Linked DNA regions of Homo sapiens: all the other regions are reported to be linked to region 1. The links are microRNA targets in miRTarBase. Many come from high-throughput screens and were not tested one by one. Region 1 holds a microRNA gene; each other region holds the end of a gene's coding sequence.

What was found. Region 1 holds the annotated microRNA hsa-miR-4731-5p (UGCUGGGGGCCACAUGAGUGUG, at 3,386-3,407, opposite strand). A microRNA usually pairs through its seed, bases 2 to 8, with sites in the 3' UTR of a target mRNA and lowers its output. Matches are read on the target gene's strand: a 7mer-m8 pairs with bases 2 to 8, a 7mer-A1 pairs with bases 2 to 7 and ends in A, and an 8mer does both.
Region 2: miRTarBase lists USP15 as a target of hsa-miR-4731-5p. Seed matches in the 3' UTR shown: 7mer-A1 at 4,217-4,223 and 7mer-m8 at 1,735-1,741.
Region 3: the mRNA of IGDCC3 is a reported target of hsa-miR-4731-5p. Seed matches in the 3' UTR shown: 8mer at 6,038-6,045, 7mer-A1 at 5,220-5,226 and 7mer-m8 at 5,009-5,015.

Annotation. Positions count from the first base shown.
Region 1 is chr17:15,248,281-15,256,245 of GRCh38, forward strand. MIR4731 (microRNA 4731) reads right to left here and starts at 3,416; the gene lies at 3,347-3,416. The region is part of intron 3 of PMP22 (peripheral myelin protein 22); the gene reads right to left.
Region 2 is chr12:62,402,894-62,410,929 of GRCh38, reverse strand. It overlaps USP15 (ubiquitin specific peptidase 15), which reads right to left. Exons shown (of 22, transcript NM_001252078.2): 22 at 1-6,737. The coding sequence ends at 6,555. Among named protein-coding and RNA genes, the nearest start is that of MON2, 60 kb to the left of the region's middle.
Region 3 is chr15:65,322,762-65,330,639 of GRCh38, forward strand. IGDCC3 (immunoglobulin superfamily DCC subclass member 3) reads right to left here. Exons shown (of 14, transcript NM_004884.4): 10 at 7,789-7,878; 11 at 7,532-7,636; 12 at 6,965-7,103; 13 at 6,629-6,836; 14 at 4,366-6,387. The coding sequence ends at 6,148. Among named protein-coding and RNA genes, the nearest start is that of RNU5B-1, 22 kb to the left of the region's middle. RefSeq lists an enhancer at 3,074-3,617.

The DNA of each region.
Region 1 (7,965 bases):
GGCGGCTCTCTCAACAGGTAATCCTGGGGGTATTTTAGCTAGAGCAAAGCCTGTGTCTGGCCACTAGTGGGCACAAACTGCTCAGTAAGTGGAAGGAATCTTCATGTCAAGGTATTCCAGCTAACTTTGATACAGTTATTCAATGAACTGCATTCCTAATTAAGAGGCTTTGTGGCAGGCACAGAGCTAGTTTGTCAGGGTCTAGTTCTGCACTTTGACATCCATATTCTTGCTCTGCTAGTGAGTTTTTGGACTTCTAAAGGGAATAACACGCAGCCACTGAGGTACCTGAGGTTACTGGATAATAGTAAGCTGTCTGAGGCTTTTTTATACCCTTGTTGGAAAACTCTAGAAACAGGGAAACAGAGTAGGCTTTGTTTCTCTAAGAATTGCTCTTGGAAGACTTACTCCACCAGATACAAAAGAAAAAGGAGGGGAGTGCATTGTACGATGAAGGATATCAATCTCCCTCCTTGGTAATTCACAATGTACCATGAATGATCAAAGCCTGCTTAACTTTCAAAACTTAGTGTCTTTCAAACGGATTTATCAGGAGACTTGTTTTTGTTTTTGTTTTTTAAAAGAAGAGCTCACTTAAAAACACTGAGTTTGGCCATAGAAAATGACGGGAAAGGCAGTTGCAATTGCAGTCATGAACTGCATCAGTGGAGAATGAACAGGGAATAATTCGCTTAGTTTTAAGATCTTCAGGTTTAGGAGGAATTCTCCCCATAGAAATAATAGAGTTCTCCTCCTTCTTTCCCCTAAAGTATGAAAAAAGAACACGCATTATGGAAATGAAGAGCTAGAACAAAAGAGCTGCTACCCCCACCAGTGACAGTAAACCAATGCCCGTTTACAAGCACAAAACCCATCTCTGCTCCCTCTGCCTACTGCAATTCTACCCCATTGCCAAGGCCCAGCTCAGAGGCCACCTCCTTTTAGGATCCCTCGATGCCACAATTACATCCTGAACATGAACAGAGGCTCCGGGACCCATGCAATGTGCAGGTCCTACCTCAACTTCAGGTCCTACCTCAATGCCTGCTCTGCTTTTAGGAAACCAGGGTACCTGCCCCAGGTTACCTAATTTGTTACAGGCAGACCCGGTGCAGAAAAACAAGGATTCCCTGATGCCCAGACTACTAGTTTTTCCACTACAACACACTGGGGGTGCAGAGAAGTCAATGATATGCTTGCAATCTAATGAATTAAATTATTCTACCACCATTCTTCAGACTTAGAATCCACAAAAACTAGAGAGGGTGGAAGGAGAATGGTGTGGCAAAGAGAGAGCGGCTTCCCTTATTCTCTGCTCATCAGCCTGCCAAGCCAAACCACTGACCAAACTTCAGAAGGGCAAGAAGAGGCCCTGCTTATGCAGCTGGGACCAGCACCAGAGAAGCCACTGAAAGAAGGAAGGAAAGAAAAACTGCAATCGTCAACTGTTTGAAGAGTCATCGTGTAGAGGAGAGACGGGGGTCACCCTGCAGTCATTGTCCAGGAGGCACTGTGGAGATTTAAATTCTTTAAGGACGTGCCAAGCAACTTGATAAAACCCAAGTCCAGCACATCAGGCATGAATGAAGGCAACTAGAAGTGAATGGACAAAAGAGGGGCAGTGTTGGGTTTAACAAGGTAATTTCTTTTTTTGAGACGGAGTCTCACTCTGTCGCTCAGGCTGGCGTGCAGTGGTGCGATCTCGGCTCACTGCAAGCTCCGCCTCCCGGGTTCACGCCATTCTCCTGCCTCAGCCTCCCGAGTAGCTGGGACTACAGGCACCGGCCACCACGCCCGGCTAATTTTGTTTTGTATTTTTAGTAGAGACAGGGTTTCACCGTGTTAGCCAGGATGGTCTCAATCTCCTGACCTTGTAATCCGCCCGCCTCAGCCTCCCAAAGTGCTGGGATTATAGGCGTGAGCCACCGCGCCCAGCCGAGGTAATTTCTTAAGTGACAATATCTCCTGGCATTCCTCCCTCATCACTGGCTGTTCATCCCCAGTCTCCTCTCCTTCCTGTACCCTCGTTAACCCCTGGCATGCCCAAGACTTAGCTCTGAACCCTGTTCCCCTTTTCTGCCTTCTGCTCTCAACTCCTCCCCAAGTAACTGTATTCAGCACCACAACATTGAATACCCTTCGGTATAGAGGAATGACTCTTGACTTTGAATTTCCAGCCCAGACCTCTCCCCTAAGCCAAAGACTTCTAAATTGAAGTGATTTGCTGACCTCTCTGATGGTCAAAATATAAATCCTGATTTCTACACCTTCCCGCAAATCTTCTGTTCCTCCTCCAGTCTCCCCATCTCAGTCCAAGATTCAGTTACACACCAGTTGCTCAAGCCCAAAACGTAGAGTCATCTAGAATCATTCTTCCCTAACTCCCTACATCTAACCCATCAGCAAACCCTGTCATGAGACCTGTTTTCTTCTCTACTTCCCCTCCCTAGCTAAGCCACCAGCTACCTCCTAGAGTTCTTGTGAGGATTAAATGCATTGCTTTTCAAAGAATGCCTGGCACTTACGTGAGCTGTTTGTATTCTTAACATCATTGTCATTGTCATCATTGTCATCTCAGTGTCATCATCATGTCCAGTCTGGACTATGACCACAAACTCCTCACTGGTCCCCAGTTTCCACTCTTGCCTCTCCCCAGAATTCATTCTCAACAGCCAGAATGAGCTTACAAAACATGAATCAAATCATGACACTCTTCTGCTTAAAACCCTTCAATGATGTCCCAACTGTCCTTCTCAGTACCACAGCCTGTGAGGCACCAGCGATCCTGCTCCCATCCCTCTCTCCCGCATTCCCCACCCTCCTTTCTTCAGCTAACTCAGGGCCTTGGTTCTTCCCTTTACCTCCTAGAATTTTCTTCCCATGGTTCTTCCTATAACTGGTCCTTCCCTGTCTTCTAAATCTCAGACCACATCACTATGGAAGGAAGAGGCCTTCCCTGAGCAGCTCATTCCTCCAGTGATGACTTTCCATTGGATCACCCTATTTGTTTCCTGCAGAGCATGTTCCACTACCCATAGTGATGCATGTATTGTGTATTGCCTGTTTCCTCCAACTCCTTGTGAGCTGCACAATGGCAGGGACCTGCTCTTTCTTGTTCATCTCTGTGCACCCCATTTCTAGAACAGTGCCCAGTACATAGGACAGGCTCAATAGAGTTGAAGAACACATGAATGGATCTCACTATTAGCTCTTCAAAAACAAAAGAGGCTCTCTTGAAGGTAATAAGTTCCCCATCAGTGGTAGGATGAACATGTGGTAGGCATATTGCAGAGGGGTCTGTGGCTCGATGGGATAGGAAGGAGGGATGGGCCAGATGACTCCGGGTCCCTGCCAGTGTTGGGGGCCACTTGTGTGTGGATGACTGCACACTCATGTGGCCCCCAGCACTGGCAGGGACCTGACCACAGTCAGAAGGCTTCATCCCAGACAGCCTTCTCTCGGGCACCAAAGATCAACATCCACAACCTCAGGCTGCACCATGGCCAGTCCCTGCTCCTGAAATGCAAGGGATGTTTTCTTGGTGCTGGTGAAATCTTGGGGATACAATTGAAGTTTTTTTAAAGCAAAGACTATAGATTCCAGGTCATACAGTTCAGACACAGGTTCAAACAAACATTTCATACTAATTCCTGGGTATTGGCATCAGAGAAACCCTAAGGGTTGAAATCCTGGCATGTTGACAACACATTCCGTCCTCTGTACCTCCCTTGTACCACCAGGGTCTCAGCATCTCATAAGAGCCTGTAAAATCCAGAGCCATTCCTTGGGTAGAGATTATGGGTTGGCTGAGGGAGCCACGAAGATTTTAAAATGTAAAACATGAACCCATAAATGCAGAAGGTCTCCCGTGTTTTCTAAAATCTGGCCAAAAGCTGAGCCACAGACAAGGAAATTGTCTGGTGTCCTTGCCAAAATGACAGTGTCACCAAATTGATAAACAAGTCTGGGATCGTTTTGAAGACAGCGATGATAGGAGACCACCAAGGGCTCAGGTTGGGGGCTGCTGAGACTGGCAAGATTTAGTTTCTCTAATTTTCAACCCAAAGCATTGATCTAATTCCTCACACAACCTATTGATAGTCATGAGTTTGCTGTTGCTGCTGCTGCTGCTGCTGCTGCTGCTGCTGCTGCTGTTTAAATGGAAAAGAAGAGTAGTAAGTGGTCATCTTCTCAGCGTCTGGTGCTGGTCCCGCCCACACACTGTGGCAGAGCAGACCCACCTGTTGTCACTGGGAAATGAGGGGCTGCAGGTACTGCCCTTAGACAATGGAGGTGGCCAAGGACGTTTGGGGACAGATTACAGGAAAGCTCAACAATTCCCTTCATGCTTTGGTGTTGAGCACTGGCCTCCTTTTTAAAAACAAAAGTGATTCAAAAAGGGGCACATTTTTTGTGCCTAACACCTCAGCATGAAAAAGTTTATCAACTACCTTTTCTTCTGAGACAAGAGAGGACTTTGTGAGCAGGGACAGGCCCTGAGAGACAGATTTTACTGAAGACAAACTGCCTGGGTCCTGCCTCATCACTGAAGCTGATGAAGACCAGCCAGGGGCCAGGGCAAGCCAGGACTGTGCCCTTCTAGCTCTTGGGCTCCCAAGCCGCCTGTGGCTTAATTCCAGTATTCTGACCCATTCTGCTACACGTCAGGTCCACACAAATTAAACAAAAAGCAGGGGAATGCTTGTGAGAACTTGGACTTGATATTTGGATCTTGGAGACTTCAAAACAAAAAGCACTGGTTCATTCAATAGCAGGGCAAATGTTTTGCCTGAATCCTTTGGGTCAGTAGATTTTAAACTCACCCATAGGGTCTTGGGGAGGAGGCTTGGCACACCCCTCCCCCTCACCAGAGCCTTCCAGATTGTATGAGTTTGCAAACTAAAGCTCCAGGAACTGGCCTCATTCAAAGCGACGCCATGGACCCTGCGTGCCATGCCCCAGGGCTCCACTCTCTTAATCAAGGCAGAGGGAACCTACTTACTACTCAAAACCAATTTTCTAACATAAAATGTTCACAGTTATTTTCTGATTGTGAAAATAAAAGATCTCAATGAGGAAAACAGGTAAGGCAGCAAAAGAAAGAAAACAGCCAAAGTGATAAGAATCCCGTCACCCAAAATAATCACTGAAAATATACCGATGCATTTCTACCTTGTACAATTTCTGATATATTCTGCCTTATAGAGGCTTCTGGACTGTCACTCCAACTTGGAATCAAATGGACCACTGAGAAACCCGTGGAAGACAGCAGGTCTAAGGAAATCACAAAGATTAGAAATGCATCCATGTGCACCCAACTCCTTCCTAGTGGGGGTGGGGGGTACCTTTGAGATGGTCTGTGATTCTACTTACCCCTCACTCTCTGTTCCCACTAGTCTGCCCTGCCCTCTGTCCCTCAACTACGCCAAGCTCCTTCCCTCCCCAGCGATCTTGCACTTGACGGTCCTTCTGTATGGAACCTCCCCGAGATGTTCATATGGCTGGCTCCTGGCCACTCCTCAAGGAGACCTTCCTTCACCACTGCAATCCCTCTTTATCCCATTACCCTGTCTTATATAGTTCTTACCATTGCCCCCAAATTCTCCATGTTTACTGACTGGTTTGTCCAGTAAAACATAAGCTCTTGTTCACTCTTGTAACCTTAGCACCTGCAATAGTCTCTGGTACACGAGAGTTGTTCAAGAAATAGTCCTGCATGAAAGATCAGAAGAGAAATGGAGAGACTCCCGAAGTGGGAAGTTCACATTTCAGGACGTGAGAAAACGCTGAAATTCCAAGATGAGGGGAAGAGAGATGGGAGGTGAGACTTAACAGAAGCAGGAGTGGATCATTCAGGTAGATTCCGATGGGCCTTGTTAAAGATTTTCATCTGAAGATTAAGACCAATGAACGGCCTCTGAAAGGTTTCAAAATGAGGAGTGATATAATTAGGTTTGTGCTTTTTTAAATATCAGCCTGGATTCCATATGAAAAATGAGTCACAGAGGAGCAAGAAAGGGTTCAGGCAAACTAGTTAGGAGGCTGCCCTGGCGCCTCTGACAAACGAGGAAGCAGCGTGACCACAGGTGGGCAACAGGCATTGGAACAATGGGGTGGCCTGAGGGACCCGTGACAATGCTGAGAAGAGAAAGAAGGAAACGCGTCAAGTCAAGGCAGACTCTAGATGTTTGGCTTGCTGGCTGGTGAAGCAGCATTCACTAAAATACTAGAAAGTGACAGAGGGGTTGAATTGGCAGAGGAAGATAAGGACTGTCTCTGGCCTAGTGACTTGGGGGCCTCTCTTAGATATCCCAAGGGAAGTGGCCAGGAGACAGCTGGATAAACAGGTCTGGGATTCAGAAGAGAGGTCTGGACTCATTAAATAATAATAAGATGGCCAGGCATGGTGGCTCACGCTTGTAATCTCAGCACTTTGGGAGGCTGAGGCAGGTGGATCACCTGAGGTCGGGAGTTCGAGACCAGCCTGACCAACATGGAGAAAGCCCGTCTCTACTAAAAATACAAAAAATTAGCCAAGCGTGGTGGCGCATGCCTGTAATCCCAGCTACCCGGGAGGCTGAGGCAGGAGAATTGCTTGAACCCGGGAAGCGGAGGTTGCAGTGAGCCAAGATGGCGCCACTGAACTCCAGCCTGGGCAACAAGAGTGAAACTCTGTCTCAATAATAATAATAAGACTTACTTATACCTGGAGAGGTGGTAGAAATAGAGAGAGAGAAGCCTCAACAGGTCCTAAAGTTTCTGAGAAGAGCCCATGTGAGAATGGTGGGGTGGCTGACAGAGCCCAGGATGCAGCAGAGATGGACTCTTTGAAGAATGCTGAAATAACTGGGACTTATGGAACTGCATAGGGCCCAACTGAGCTATTGCAAAAGAGTATGATTGGGTATGGGAGGGGATGGTCAAACCCTCAAGGAAAGTATTCCACACCAGGCTTACAGAGAGGTATTTGCTGCCAGGTTTCTATGATTTGAAAAGCCATGCTTCCCCCAAGGCCGAATGACTATATTTCTCAGCCTCTCTTGTAAATAGGTGTAGGTGTGACCATGTCACATTTCATTAAAAGAAAAGGAGATTCATTCTTCCCCACCTCCTTTCTCCACCCTACTGCTTGAATCATGGATGAGATGGCTGGAGCTCTAGCAGCCTTTTGTTTCCTGAAGATGACAGCCAAACCCAAGAGATGGCAAAGAAATGAGCTAGAAAGTGTCTGCATCTCTGACAATTTCATGGAACCTCCATACCTCTCTCAGGCTACCTACTTCCAGACTTCTTTGAAAAGAGAGAAAAATAAATGATCTTACTTAAGCCCCTATCATTTGAAGATGTTCTCTTATACACAATCAATCCTAATCCTAACCAGAACACTAGCCAACCAGTCTACCCCATCCCCTGCCTTGTTCTACCCTTACCTTAGGTCACAGGGAATATTCTCCTCCCCGTTGCCTGTATTGACTTAAATCCTGCCCATCCTTTGGAGGATGGATCAGATTCTACCTCCCACCAGAGATTTCCCATCCGCTTCCTCCCTGAACTCAGACGCTGTCTGCCTGCCTCCCTTTGGGCACCTGGCCTGCTCTGCCTTCCAAGGGAGTGATTCACCCTTCCATATCTATCTCCTGACTCTTCGACCAGGCTCGGGACCATCAAGGCAAGGCCCATGCATTCCAGATCCTTGTATTCCCTGGGCCGGAGAGGCACTGGATACAATATCATAACGAATATCCCCACACTAAGCCTCTCTTACCTCTGCCCACACGAGGCAGATAAGGAGGGGGTGCCAGAAAGTATACAAACACATTTAGAAAAACGAGAAGGCAGGCGGAGTCAAAGTCAGTTAGTTAAAAATCTAAAACTATTTCTAATATTAAGATGTAGCCTGGGGGCAAGATCTGGTGTGTCTCTTTCAAACTACACAACCTAGATGTTAGACTGCCTCATGGCACG
Region 2 (8,036 bases), not on the chromosome of region 1:
TTTCAAGTTTACCATCATACTAAGACTTCTGTTCCAAGTCTTTTATAGGAGTGAGGCCCAAAATTAAAAAAAAAAAAAAACAAAAACAAATATTAACTTGACTCATCAATGCTATTAGTTATTAATTCCTTTGCTAAAAATATATACTTTTAACGACAGCTTCAAAAATGAAATTTAAGCCTTCCTCTCCACACCCATAAACTAATACTTTCAAGAGACCAGCATAATTTTATGGTTGTGAAAACAGTAATTCAGAGGTTAATGACCTGTTTGGAGCTAGCTATGGTGGAAGTTGTTGTAAGTGTAGAATGTTTCCTACCATATCTCACTGTAGGTAGTACCCAAATATCTAGGATTAATGATGTTTACTGTTTGAATTTGCAGTATTACTTCAACTTATACAATAGGTACATAGCTCAAAAGTGAATATAGCTCTGAGTTCTAGAAATTAAAAAGCTTTACCAAAGTCACTATTTAAGGGAGACCTACAGGAATTCTTTCTCAAATTAAAAAAAAATACTATAAGTAATTTTCCCATCTTTACTTTTTTTTTGTTTTTTAAAATAAGGGCAACTCTAAAATAATTCCTATTTGCTTTACATAATTCTTGGGAGACTGATAATTCACCACAATGTGATTACAAATAGATAATCCTTGGTGCTTCTATTAGGGAGTTCAAGAACTGAATGACTGGCTGGAGGTCGCGGTCTTTTTGGGGAAATGAGTTAAACAGGCATGATGGGATTAATTTGGATGAACTTATCAGACAATTTAAATATTGCCCACTTGATATAATGGAAAGATGGTTCTCACTTGAAAGAAGATTAAATGCTGTATTTAATAGAAATGACTCAAGGTTAGAAGAGAGTAGGTATGCATATGACTAGACATAAGTGAACACTTTAATACATTAGTCTAAATTACTTAAAACTTAGCATACTTAATCATGAACAGAGGAGCATTAAAGAGTTACGTCTGTTAACATCGAATACTCCTTTATGGAGTTTAAAAGAAAAGCAAATACTATTAAAAAAAAATTTTAATGAGAGACTTGTGCTTGATATGTTACAAAATCTAAGAATTCTGAAAGATTTTAAATAAAAATTAGAAATGTGGTGATGTTTAAGGTTTAAAACAACAGCTTGGGAAATGTTAAGTATGTGTCATTACTGAGAATAATGTAATAATACACATTGTGGGAAAGACTGTTGGGATGTTTCCATATTTATTGTTTTACTTTTATGTATGTAGATTTAACTCCAGCTAACAACAAACTTAAATGTCACAGCAGATAAAAACTGTTTTGTTTGTTTCACCAAACTATATAGAACAAGCTGCAAGTTCCTGACATGAGAAAAAAAACTTTAGCAACACGAGCACCAACTTTAATTATGATTTTCTACAGGAGAACATAGTAAATTACCAATACAACTTAAACATTTAAAATATATTTTGTGCATATTGAAAGTGTGTGGTCTTATTTTACACATTTTCAATTCCAGAGAGATAGTTGTATTTTTAGCTGCTTTGTAAAATCACATTTGCTACACATTTCTAGGAAAAAAAAATATCAAAACCCATTTGACTGATTTTCTCTCTGTCCTTTGAGACTGTAGTCCAATATATTACGTAAATTCCTGATTTTCCTTGAATGGCTTAGCCAGTTTCTGAATGTCCTTAATAGTCTGAGATCTATTTCACAACCCTGACAAGTTCCAGGCTCCCAAAAGTAGAGCTGGGGAATAATTAAACCATGGCACCGTGTGGGGTATGTTTCCCGATGCATATATTTTCCAAAAATAATTTTTGAACTGTCTGTTTTATATTATCCATTTAAAAATTCTTTACCCCATCATTAGTGAAGAAAAAAGTCTTGATAAATATTTGAATTTTTACCATCTATATTTTATTTTCCTAATTCTGATATTTTAAAGCCTATTCTATGCAGCTTATAAAATTTTGATGTATTCTATGTAGCTTATAAAATAACTCAATTTTAAACCAAAGTTTTCTTATCTGAGCTATTTGGAAATTCTTTTAATATATAGTAAATACGAATTAAACACGTAAAACACATACATATTGAATTGAAATGGCCTCCAAACCTAAAATGATTATTAAAAAACCATCATATATATTTCTCACTAGAAAATCTGATAATAAAATGATATATAATATAGATCTGCAACTGAATATATAACAAAAACTAGCAAGGATATAAATACACTCACCTTTTCCTCCTTTCCCTATCCTCTGGTCAAGTGGTACTTAGAAGAATTATTTGGGAATGAATACCAATATATTTTCAAGAGAGGTTGTTTCCAAATTCCTCATGTTAAGTTATTCAAAGAGCAAAAAATTTTTTATTTTTTTGTAAAGTAAAAACAAACAAAAAAAATGAGCAAAAACTTCTACTCTTATTCTATGGCCCTAGAAAGGAGCTCTTCCTTTCCTTCTCACTCCTCTGATATTTTAGAGGACCTCTGGTTCCTTCCCCTAGTCTATGATTCAAGAGTTTTCCACATTTCTATCTTAAAAATTAAAGCGGTGAGCTCATCTACACTGCACAAGCACAGAAGATCAGAAACATACTACATAGGGAGAGTTGGAAGTAGGCAATAATGAAATGCATTATCTGTAGGTAACTTAAAAATAACAAAACAAAAAATTGGCCTTTTTCTTGTCACCATACATCAGACTTAAACGTTATCAGTCTAATATATTCCTCCTCTCGGAGGCAGAGAGCTCCTACTACACCCTACACTCCCTTTGGTGTACCACTGAAGGAGACTCCATTTCAGTCTCCCGGCTTATTTTATAAGATAAACTCACTTCAATCAAATTAGTTCATAAAAAACCCCACCACCTTTATGTTGTATCTATTTTGGTACTTACTGATTTTCTTTGTGCCCAAATCAATGTTTTGTGTAGTTTTATATCCAGTTGTCAGGAAAGCAAGGATAAATACAGGACTACTAAAATAACACAGATTATGAGAAAGCAAGATATTTAAATAAAGCACCAGGCTGCAACTTTTTCAAGGAGGTTAATTAAAACTAAATTATAAGGCTGAGGCAGGAGGATCACTTTAACCCAGGAGTTCAAGGTTACAGTGAACTATGATTATGTCACTGCACTCCAGCCTGGGCGACAGAGGGAGACCTTGTCTCTAAACAAACAAACAAACAAACAGAAAGCAAAACTAGAGTAGAGTTTACAAAGTCCTGAAATTCAGGGTTGCATTTGGGGAAATGGAAAGAAGGGGACACAAGTTAGATGAAAAGGTAAGAAAAAAATGTCACATTGTATTTACCATTTAATTAAAATTGTAATAAAGGTATATAAATTAAATGAAATTAATTTTTAAAAGGGAATGGGTTAGTCAATATTCCAGTGGGTACTTTCTTATTCAATGCTCGAATACTGAGCTAAATATACTTTTAGAAGCAAAGTTATTAGACTTCAAGATGTCTTTCTATTTAGACTGAAGAAATCAGTGAGTGTGTAATAAAGTTTACAAAGCTCTTCCCATAAAATACATGATCTCATTTGAGCTCTCAACAATCCTATGAGGCAGACACTATAACACAGTGAGAGGTAGTATATATCTGAGGATAGAATATTGGCTCTACCCCATAGCAATTGTGTGAGCTTGGGAATATTACTTAAATGCTTTGTATCTTGGTTTCTTCATATGAAAAATGGGGATGACAACTATCCCTACCTCATAGCTGTTGTGGGATTAAATGAGAGAATGCATATAAACACTTTAATATAGTGCCTGGTCCATAGTAAGTGCTCAATAAATGCTGGCTATTATCATCATTATTCTACAGGTAAAGAAACACTATCAAAGATTAAGTTCAAAGTCATATGATTGCTAAGTGGCAAAGCTAGAAGTAGAAATTCTAGTCTAGATATATTCCCATTACCCTGTATTACCTATGAATATCTTTTTTTTTTTTGAGACAGAGTCTTGCTATGTTGCACAGGCTGGAGTGCAGGGGTGTGATTTCGGCTAACTGCGGCCTTGACTGCCTGGGCTCAAGCAATTCTCTCACCTCAGCCTCCCCAGTAGCTGGGAACACAGGTGTGTGCACACCCAGCTAATTAAAAAAAAATACATATATTTGTACAGATGAGGTTCTCACTATGTTACTCAGGCTGGTCTCAAACTCCTGGGCTCAAGTGATCCTCCCGCCTGAGTCTCCCAAAGTGCTGGGATTACAGGCATGAACCACCGTGCCCAGTCTGAATGCCTACTTTTAATTAGAATATGTATTATCCTTTTGCACTATTTTTAAAGTATACTTCTTGCAGCTGAAAAATGACATTTGAGTTTGGCAGTTTCAATGGCATTATTAACATCACTTCTTTTAGTGGGAACAGAAGTTAATGACAGGCATTAAAAAGAAAGTGGTCTCTGAAGAATTAGGATGGAGACCACAATATAGGTTTAAAAGATTTAGCTTTGACTTTTCTTTAAATCTTCAGAAAAATGGAAATATAGTTCATTAGTTGGTAGATGGCAGAAAGAATGTAAGCTCTGTGAAGGTAAGGATATTTGTTTACTGCTGTATCTCCAGACTCTACAACAGTGATTGGTACACAAACATATGTTTAATGAATAAATATTAAAGTGGACAAAAATCAACTTTAAAACGTCCTTAATAGTAGGATTCATTTTGCTCTGACATAATTTCCTTTCTAGTATTAACTATTTATAACTAAAAAGTCTAGCATATAGTCATCTAACCATAAAGTAGGGGATTTTTATTAAAAGATTAAGAGTAAGAAATAAAAGACTAAATAAGGCCTTGAATAGCTTTATTGAAATCTATATAAATAAACATGCACATTTCAAATGTAAACTCAAGTGAACTCAAGTGCAGACAAAATTTTAACCTCTGTCATGCAGGAGGTTAGTTTACATTAAAAAAAAAAAAAAGAAAAAAAAAACCCCAAAGCAGCTTTTAAAATACCAGGATGATAAACCAGCTTTAATATCAAGATATAAAGCAAAGCCATGATCAACATACCTCATTTATCCTGGTCAAATGCATTTTTTTTAAACTTTTAAATGCTAACATAAATAAATAATTTACCAAAATGTGCACTCACAGAGTGAACTTTTATTTACAATACACAATTTATAATCTATTGTATTTGATTAGTTCAAGTGAAGAACATTATACTTTTTGCTTTAATAACAGTGGGACACAAAGCAATTTCTCAGGTAGTCGATATGTGAAATGTGCCCCAGCATTTAGGTTTTCTATTAAAGGCAGTATTGTATGCCAATTTACAATACATTCTTTCAACTATATCAAAGGGAAAAAGCAGCAAATAAAAATGTTTCAAATGTTCACACATATTTTTGGCATCCTGGATCCTTGAATGTGGTGAACTAAAATCAAATTCAAGGTGTTTATGCTTTATATACTGTACAGGTTCTGACTCTGGAACATGCAAATGCCATTTCTCTTATAACAAGTTACCTTCTGAGAAAAGCTGTAAGGCTATGGTGAATTCCATCAGGAACACACAAAGAAAGTTAACAGACCTACCTTTATAGCCAATTGTCCATTAATGATTTAAAGGCCAGTATATGAAAAAAATTTCTCATCTAAGCTTGATGCAATTATTACTATGGGTACAGAATACTATTATGTCTGTCCTTATATTACAATAATTGGGAGAGCTCAAGTTGCCAAATTACCACAAAATGGGGTAGAGAAAAACAGACAGCAAAAATTTTAATTTTGGACCAACACCCAATTAAAGATATGCATTTTAAAGCAAAAAATGTTTTTGAATATCTGAAGAATAGATCCCAATAGCAGTAAATAATACTTACATGTAACTGAAAAATGACTTTAGATGGAGTATGAAATCTAGAACCTGTTTCCACAGTGGCAGTAAAATGAATATAATACTCTGGATTTTTAAAGGTATTACAAAGGGAAATAACTTTTCCAAGGTTGTTTCTTGTATCATGATTTGGTTTTTTAATAGGCCCACATTGATTACGGGGATAAATTTGAAAATGCGGTTTTCGAAGAATGCTGCCGCAGTATTTATGCCACATTGATACTGCAGCTAAATATCATAGTAGTATATACGGCAGCCTAATGCACATGAACTAGATTATCCAAAAACTAAGTTCAGCCATAGTTTTCTTGCAGTATTATTAGAGCAAAATAAATGACCAACATCCACAAATTTAACATTTGTCATCAACTCACATCCAAAAAATTAAAGGAAACATAATTAATCAAAACAGCAGCAAACTTAAAAGGGATTTATTTGTGATTTCCTATATATATTTAGCTTGTAAATACAAGACTGTAAATGTATTAAGAGACAATTTCTGTTAAAGTTTTCATTGTGTTTCACTTCAAGTACTGCACAAGTTAAAATCTGATAAAGGATTTACATTCGGTTATCTGAAACTCCCCATCTCAGACTTTTGTTTTAATGTGGTGGGTAACTTCATCATTTCCATAGATACCACCAGCAGGAAAGTGTCTCTTTTATGGCTTCTAGGACTTTCATTAGTTAGTGTGCATACAGTTTTCATTTTCTATATCATTGTCATTATCATTGCTATCTTCATCACTTTCTAATGGGATGCCAGTGGCAGCTGAAGCACCTTTAGTTTCTCGGTCAAGAGGAAAAAAGCCAGTTCCACTGAAAGTGTCTTGTCTCTGGTAGAAGAGTACATATGCTGCTTTGGACTGTCAAAACAAAGGATGTTAAAACAGTTATGATTCTCAAAGATCACGTTAAATACATTATGAATTTTTAGCTGGTCACCAATTTTGGTAAGAGGGCATAAATCAAATAGAAAAACCATGCATGGTCAAATGGAAGTTACTAAAATTCATTAAATATAAGATGATTTCTAATAAAGAATCGTTATTAGAATTACAAATTTTTATGTGCTTCTAAATTATTTGGACAAAGAAATAAATGCAACTGTATCACAGTTCTAACTGTGATACACAAACTGTATCACAATTCTAACGTAAAAATAGAATTCTATGCTTTCTTTCCTACCATCTCTTAAGGAAAAGGTAAATTCCTCCCTTCTAATACTAGTCACTTCATCCCATGTTTGCTGTAGAGTCCAACTTTTCCTACCATCTTAAGGATGCTGTTCCATCAATCATCACTGTGTATCTTCAATGAGTCCTTATCCACTGGACTTGTCTCTTTGGCATTAAAAAATACCTAAGGTTTTTCCTATCATAAGTCCCTCTCCATTCTACTTCCCCTTCTAGCTGCCATATACCTCTCTTCCTCTTCCTCATAGTCAGGGTGATAAACAGAGTTGTCAATACTCATCATTCACTCTCATGCACACTTCTCAACTCAAAGTAATCTAGCTTTTCCCCAAACCATTCTAGCAAAATGGCTTTCAGCAGGGTCAATAACCTAATAAACAACTGAAATGGGTGACCTTTCCAGTTCTTTTGGTCAATCTCTCAGTAGCATTTAATGCTTCACTATTTCTTTTCCTATCAACAAACAATTTTTTGCTTCTGTGACAACACTACTCAGATCTCCTACTATCTCTTTGGTTTCTTCTCAGGCTCTTCTGTGGACTTATTAAATCCTGACCTTTAAACATACTATGTTCTGTCCTCAGCCCACCATTGTCTCAACCTGAATCCTCTCACTAGGTGACTCATTTAAACCTATGGCTTCAACTGCTGCCTGAGGCTGACAACTCAAATGTATAACCTAAATCAGTTCTCACCCCTGAACTCCTGTCTTATGAGTCCAACAACCTAATGGAAATTTCCACACAGCTATCATACAGGCATCTCAAACTTCAACAGCAACTATTCTTCCTATATTCCCAATCTTGGTGAATGGTGAAGTAAAAGTCATCTTAAACTTCTCCTTCTCTGGATCTCTACATCTATTATCCTTATTATATCTTTTATCAAGTTATATTAATTCTGTCCAGTAAATATCTCATAAATCCATTCTCCCCTTGTTTGTATTGTTCTAACTACTATTTTAATTGC
Region 3 (7,878 bases), not on the chromosome of region 1:
TCATGCACAGTCCCAGGGCCATGGGGTAAAGCTTTCCTCCCCTCCCTGCCTCCTGGCTCATATTTGTTCCCCACCTGTCCCTCCGGAGTGGCCCTGTGGTCATTTTATTTATTTATTTATCTATTTATTTGAGATGGAGTCTCACTCTATAGTCCAAGCTGGAGTGCAGTGGCATGATCTCGGCTCACTGCTACTTTCACCTCCTGGGCTCAAGTAATTCTCCCCGGCGGGTGAGCCACTGCACCCGGCCCCTGTGGTCATTTTAAAACAGTCCATACATTCTTTGACTCTCCATTGAAAAGAAGACTTTAATTCCCCTTGAATTCCCTGAATGTGGCTTGCCTTAGCGACTTGTTCTAAAGAGCTGACTATAGCAGAAGTGATGCTGTGTCACTTGGGCCGGCGTAGAAATGATGTTGCAGTTTCCACCTGGCTCTCTCTCTCAGGACGCTTGTCTTTGGAACCCAGCCACTATGCTGTGAGGAAGCCCAGGCCACACGGAGAGGCCATGTGGAGGTGCTGGGCTCACAGCCAGCATCAGCCACCAGACGCGGGAGGGAGGGAGCCTTCAGGGGATCCCAGCCCCCAGGCTTCAAGCTGCCCACGCTGATGCAGAGTGGAGCAGAGACAGCTGCCCCTGAGCCCTGCCCAGACTGCATATTTGTAAGCCAAATAAATGTGATGTGAAACCACCAAGGTTTGACGGCACTCCAGCCTGGGCAACACAGTGAGACCCTGTCTCTTAAAAAAAAAAAAAAAAAAAAAAAAAAAAGGCCGGGCATGGTGGCTCATACCTGTAATCCCAGCACCTTGGGAGGCCGAGGCAGGTGGATCACGAGGTCAGGAGATCGAGACCATCCTGGCTAAAACAGTGAGACCCCGTCTCTACTAAAAATACAAAAAATTATCTGGGCATGGTGGTGCTTATAATCCCAGCTACTCAGAAGGCTGAGGCAGGAGAATCGCTTGAACCTGGGAGGGGGAGGTTGCAGTGAGTGGAGATCACGCCACTGCACTCCAACCTGGGTGACAGGGTGAGACTTGGTCTCAAAAAAAAAAAAAAAAAATTGCCAGGCGTGATGTCTTACGCCTGTAATCCCAGCATTTTGGAAGGCCGAGGCAGGCAGATTATCTGAGCTCAGAAGTTCCAGACCAGCCTGGGCAACATGGCAAAAGCGCATCTCTACTAAAAATACAAAAAATTAGCCTGGTGTGGTGGTGTGGGCCTGTAATCCCAGTTACTCGGGAGGCTGAGGCACAAGAATTGCTTGAACCCGGGAGGCAGAGGTTGCAATGAGCAGAAATCATGCCATTGCACTACAGCCTGGGTGACAGAGAAAGACTCCGTCTCAAAGAAAAAAAAAAGGTTTAGGGTTGTTTGTTACAGAGCCTTAGATGATTGGAACAGGTTGCAGCCTTGGTTGTGGCAGATTTCTGCCCAAAGATAGTTTGTGGGGGACAGTGAGGTTTGACGGGGTTCTTCAGCCTGAGGCCTCTGGGCTATTTGAGATCTCAGGACCTGGATTCCAGTCAGGCCACTCAGCTTTGACACCTATTTCTGCTAACCTTCCTCACTGGAACCCTGCTCTGTCATCTACCCAAGCCTGGCTGAGACTTGTGATGGTTAGGGCAGGCCCTGCCTACATTTGTTTGTGTTTTGTATACAATTTGCATATATCTGCATGATCATATTTTGGTGGATTTTTATTTTTTTTTTTGACAGAGTCTTGCTCTGTTGCCCAGGCTGAAGTGAAGTGTCGTGATCTCGGCTCACTGCAACCTCCACCTCCCAGGTTTAAGCAACTCTCCCACCTCAGCCTCCCGAGTAGCTGGGATTACAGGCAGGCACCACCATGCCTGGGTAATTTTTGTATTTTTTAATAGAGATGGGGTTTCCCCATGTTGGCCAGGCTGGTCTTGAACTCCTGACCTCAGGTGATCACCCGCCTCGGCCTCCCAAAATGCTGGGATTATACGCGTGAGCCACTGCACCCAGCCTTATTTTCGTGGGGTTTTTTGTTGTTGTTGTTTTGTTTTTTTTTGAGACAGAGTCTCGTTCTGTCACCCAGGCTGGAGTGCAGTGGCATGATCTCAGCTCACTGCAGCCTCTGCCTCCCCGATTCAAGCAGTTCTACTGCCTCAGCCTCCCGAGTAGCTGGGATTGCAGGCATGCACTACCACGCCTGGCTAATTTTTGTAGTTTTAGTAGAGACGGGGGTTTCTCCATGTTGGCCAGGCTGGTCTCGAATTCCTGACCTCAGGTGATCTGCCCACCTTGACCTCCCAAGGTGCTGGAATTATAGGCGTGAGCCACTGCGCCTGGCCCATTTTGTGGTTTCTAAACATTTCCAGACACCTCCCATCTGGGACTCTTAGAAGGGACAGGGGCACTGGATGTTACTTGTCTACTCCCCCAACCCCACAGGGTTGACTTGAACAATCACCTCCCCAGGCTGCCCTTGGATGGCTGAAGTTGTTAAAACATCTATGTGTGCAAAGTGCCGTGTAAAGAAAGAGTTTTATATCTATATTTGAGATAGTTCTTTCCTGGGATAATCAGGGAAAGTCAGCAACCTCCCTGGAGATTCAGGATAGGCGCCCTATAGGCCTCAGCGCTCTCTTGCCTGGTTCAGCATCCCTAGCACCGTCACTGGTCCTGACCTGACCTCGGGCCCAGCTATCCACAGGCCTCTTCTGGAAGTGCCTGGCCAGGTACCTTCAGATGTTCTTTTAGGATCACAATCCTGCTTTCAAGTGAAATTTCATCAAGAATCCAACATGGGCTCGGCACAGTGGCTCACGCCTGTAATCCCAGCACTTTGGGAGGCTGAGGGAGGTGGATCACCTGAGGTCAGGAGTTTGAGACCAGCCTGGCCAACAAGGCAAAACCCTGTCTCTACCAAAACTACAAAACATTAGCCAGGTATGGTGGTTGGTGCCTATAATCCCAGCTACTCGGGAGGCTGAGGCAGGAGAATTGCTTGAACTTGGGAGGCGGAGGTTGCAGTTAGCCGAGATCGCACTACTGCACTCCAGGCTGGGCGACAAAGTGAGACTCTGTCTCAAATTAAAAAAAAAAAAAAAAAAAAAAAAAGCCAACATGTAATAAGACAGAAAAAATATGGGAAAAAATATTGAGCTGGTCTGGGTGAGGGTGGGTAGGGAGAGTGAGGAGGCCCTCCAGAGAGCTCCCCCTCACCCCAGCCATAGCCAGGGAGCCCAATTTACCCACTGCTCTCCTGGTACGTTCCTCTCGAAAGGTGCCCCTGGGTTTAGAACCTGGCTTTCCAGGTCTGCTGAGCCTCCTGGGTGTGAACCCAGGCTTTCAAATTCAGCAGTAGCTGCATTATACTGCTGCCTCTTACTAAGCTTGAGGCCAGCTGAGACCTTCGGATCTTTGTCAGCATAACTGCCATTAAGCCCAGCCTCTCTCGAACCTAAGCCATAGCAGCTCCAGGCAACTGGCTTCAGGAGCCTGGACTGAGAGACAATGGCAGAACAGAGAGGCCTGGCCGGAGTCCTGGCTGAGTGCCCTGGAGGGAATCACTCAGTCACAGCCTGTTTCCTCAGCTTCAGAACCGGGAGGAAACCAGTCCTTCCTCATAGACAGTGCGTGAAAAGCACACAGCCCTGCCTGGCCAGCACCTGGAGAGCGCTTAACCTTGGCGGGCTGAGCGAGCAGCCGCCTCGCTGCTGGCCGAGGAGGGGTGGGGCGGTGGTCAGAATGCAGAGCCTGGAACCTGGCAGCCTGGCCTGGATACAGACTCGGATCCTGTGTGAGGATCAGACTGACCAACTGCCTGTGTGGGATTGTGGACATTTCCTTCACCTCTTTTTTCTTGGTTTCATCAACTATAAAATGGAGATGACCAGCCAGGCACGGTGGCTCATGCCTGTAATCTCACCGCTTTGGGAGGCTGAGATGAGCAGATTGCTTGAGATCGGAAGTTAGAGACCAGCCTGGCTAACATAGCGAAACCTTGTCTCTACCAAAAATACAAAAATTAGCTGGGTGTGGTGGCGCACTCCTGTAATCCCAGCTACTCAGGAGGCTGAGGCAGGAGAATTACTTGAACCCAGGAGGCAGAGGTTGTGGTTGAGCTGAGATTGTGCCATTGCACTCCAGCCTTGGCAACAGAGTAAAAAACTGTCTCAAAAAAATAAATAAAATGGAGATGACGGTCACTAGCATATCTTAGTCACAGGGAGGGGTGAGGACTCAGGAACTGCACCTCATGTGGCAGAGAGCTGTAGTGTATAGGGTCTGCTGTTACTATCCCAGGTTCTGGGCCTGTGAGGGCCCTGGCCCACCCAGCACCGCAGCCCCTCCCCCAGGACCTGACACAACCACCCAAAAACTCCAGGTTCACTTTGGCAACAGGACTTTTATTCAGTCAAAATGAGCAGAGTGTGACAAAACCCAAGTAAGGCCAGGTGGCCCCCCAGCCCCCTCCTGCCCCAGCCGCACCCTTCCCAAGGGAGAGGGAGGCTCCCGAGAGAAGCTGCTTTGGGAACAGAGGGGGCACTGCCTTGGAGCTTTGTGGAGCCCTGGGCATCCACACATCATTTGGGAGAAGGGAAGGGACTACCCTTCCCCAAGTCCACGCGGACACAGCTCTAGTTTTCTAGGAAAACACCACAAATTCTATCTTCTTCAGCTAATTAACTAAAGTTCAGGGTGGAGGTGTCCCTAGAGGATTGGGGGTCAGGGATATTTATGGTCTCATTCTTAAGGAATACACTTATCTTTTTTCTTTAAAAAAAGTTTTTCTTCTGCTATTTAAAAAAATGTTTCTGAGTATAACCAAAAATAGGTATTTGTTTCCTTGGTTTTCTTTTCTTCTTCTTTAACTAAGTAGTTCAAAGAACAACACAACAGAAAAGAGTAACAAAAAGTCACAAGAACATAACCCTTAACACACCTTGTATAAAAATAGCTTCCGGCCATGGCTGCTGACAGTGGATGCTCCCCTGTCGAGGGGTGGATCAGGCTGGCTGGGTGCCTGAGGCTGGGGCGCCTCTGCAGGGGACACCCACACCCCCTCACCCTCCCACACACCCATCCCACACATGGTACATTCCAGGGGCCGGGCCTGCAGGACAGGAGGCAGGCGGCCAGCTGATGCCACCCTCCCAAGCCCAGGTTCCTCATGGGCATCCCCATCAAGGATGGGCTGGCTCAAAATGGGAGTGGACAGACAAGACGGGGACAGGCGGTGTGCTGGGAGGTGGCTCGTTTGGACAATTTATACTTCAAGGAACAAATTTCCTCTCATTTTTGGCTGCTTTCACATTTTTTCTCTGCCCAATCCATTTCTATTTCTGTAGGCCACAAGAGTTCCCCTTGGTGGCCCAACCTCTGGCCTCTCCTCTGCAGGAGAGGTAGGTGGGCTGTGGGCAGGAGGGGCGGGGAGGCAGGTCCAGTGACAACACAGCCCACAGAGCCAGCGAGCCTTGAGGTAGACATTTTCTTTCACATCTGGAAATGGGGAAGTGCTTTTTTTTTTCTTTCACACCTGGAAACGGGGAAGTGCTTTTTTTTTTTTTTTTTTTTTTACTCTGGACAACAGTGTGGGAAGGGAGAGGGGGTCCCCAGCAAGGGGACTTGAGGTAGGAGTGCATTCGGGCTCTGTGGGGTAAGGGGGCTGAGGCCACCGCCCCACTGCCCCCCAGGACATTCATTCCGGCTGAGGTAGGTGCTGAGAGCCAAAACAGCAAAAATCCATCCTGAGAAAACAAAGTCGGTGGAGGGTGACAGTGTCAGGGCCCAGCTACAGCAGGGTCATCTTTTGGAGTCTAATTCACCTTCCTCTATCTCTCTCCTCTTTTTTTTTTTTTTTAAGTTTTGCTTTTTAAAGAAAAATGTTAGTTCAGTTCCAAGTCATGTGGGTACCAGGCAGAGGCAAGGGGGCGTCAGCCCAGGGAAGGAACAGGCTCCTGCAGGAACTGCTCCAACTCCTGATGGGTGTTAGGGCCGGGGGGTCCCTGTCAAGGCTGCCTTGGGTTTTGACAACCCAAGAGGCAGTCAGGATAGAAATGCTGGGGAGCCCCCAGGACCATCCAAATCCCACATGACAGTAGAAATCTTGCTTTTGACCTGAGAATGGGCCCCGCTCCGTCCACCCTCTGGAGCCTGCCAGACACTGGCTACTGTTCCGAGTGAGCTGGCTGGGTAACCCGGGCCGCTGCAGGCCTGGAAGCCTGGCCTTCACTGAGGAGGCCAGGGCCTCCATCTGGGGGTGGTGGGGCAGCCGCCAGGCCGGCGCAGGGAGCCGTGGCCTCTGTGGTCTTCGCCTCCGTCGTCTTCCCCTCCATCAGGCCGCACCCCTGAAGTGGCAGCACGGAGAGCTGGGTCTCCTCACACGGAGCGGGGGCTGCAGGATCCTGCTGGGGAAAGAGCCCGTCACACAGGCGTCAGCTTGAGGGCCAGGGCGCCAGGCTCCAACTCACCCCACTTGGGCCTTAGGGTCTCCAGGTCTCCCTGCCTGACTCAGGGACACAAAGAGAAGACCTGCAGTTTGACTAAGGCCAATGATCGAGGCCCGTGGCCAAGGTGAAGGGGGGCAGGATTGGAAGGTGGCAGTGTCAGAGCCTGAGGCGGGGGTTTGTTTAAGACATGGGCACTCACTGTGGGTCTGGGGTCCGGCTGCCCTGCTGCGCTGGCCGGGGGGAACAGCTGCTCCAGCTCCTTCATATCCACACGTTTCTCGTCTCGGCCCAGCTGGCCCCGCTGTCCCCGTCTCGCCCCATTTAGGGCTAGAATGCCAGGGTCCCTCTGGCTCCGGGGACCCTGTGGAGGGGACAGCTGGTTTTCCACATCTTTACACAGGAGGACCCTAAGGGTTAGCCAAGAGTTGGGGGGAGGGAGAGAGAAAAGAGACAGAGGCAGTGAGCCCACACTCACCTTCTCTAGGCCTAGTCCCCCACACACCAGCCCAGCCCCTCTCCCTGGCCCAGGACCCACCTGCCCCTTTGGCCGAACAGGAGGAAGAGGACACAGAAGATGATGCAAGTGACCCCGATGTGGATGCCGATGACGATGCCTGTGGTGGACGTCTGGTTGGCGGCCTCCTCCTTCCGGCAGTCACATGGTGGGCTCAAGGCTGGGGACAGGGACGGGTTGGAGGCTTTGGCTCTCCAGGTCTGAAGCACTCCCAAACACCCAGCCTCTGGGGACTCCTCTTCCTTCAGCTGCTCCCACTCCCAAGTGGGAGTGGGAACATCCTTTGACTTTGCCTACAGGACTCCAGACCAATCTTTTTGGTTCTTTTTACCAGATACTAGGAATAGCATGGACCATTTCATCCTTGCCACAGCTTTGTAAAGTAGGTACTATTATCCCTGTATTATAGAGAAAACTGGGATCAGAGAGGTTAAGTAACTTGACCAAGGTCACACAGCCAGCATGTGCATGGCCAAGCTTCAAACTGTGGTCTAAGCCTGTGTTTTCAAGCGTGGCACATGCTATCTCACCCCATTACTTTCCCGGCTTCCCACCCACTCAGCCCCGCACTCCATCCCCAGCCCTCACCTGTCCTCTCAGATGCTCCCCTCAAAGACACAAAGCGGACTGTGGCATTGCCATCTCCATGCTGGTTGTAGGCGAGCAGCTTCACCTCATACACTGCAGTGGGGTCTGGAGGAAGGCAGGGCGGATGAGCAACTGCCCCTGCCCAACCACGTGCCCTGTCCTAGCCAGGAAAGGGAGGTGACCCCTGTACGCCACCTCCTGGCCCTCAGCGCCGCACTCTGCCAAGCCCCCTAGGCTCTGGGCTGTGTCTGCCTCACCGAGCTGGCTGAGGTTGTAGGAGGAGACGGTTCCAGGCAGCAGGATGGGGCCGGTGAAGGAGGTCTTGCTTGCTGGGCGGTAAAACAGCT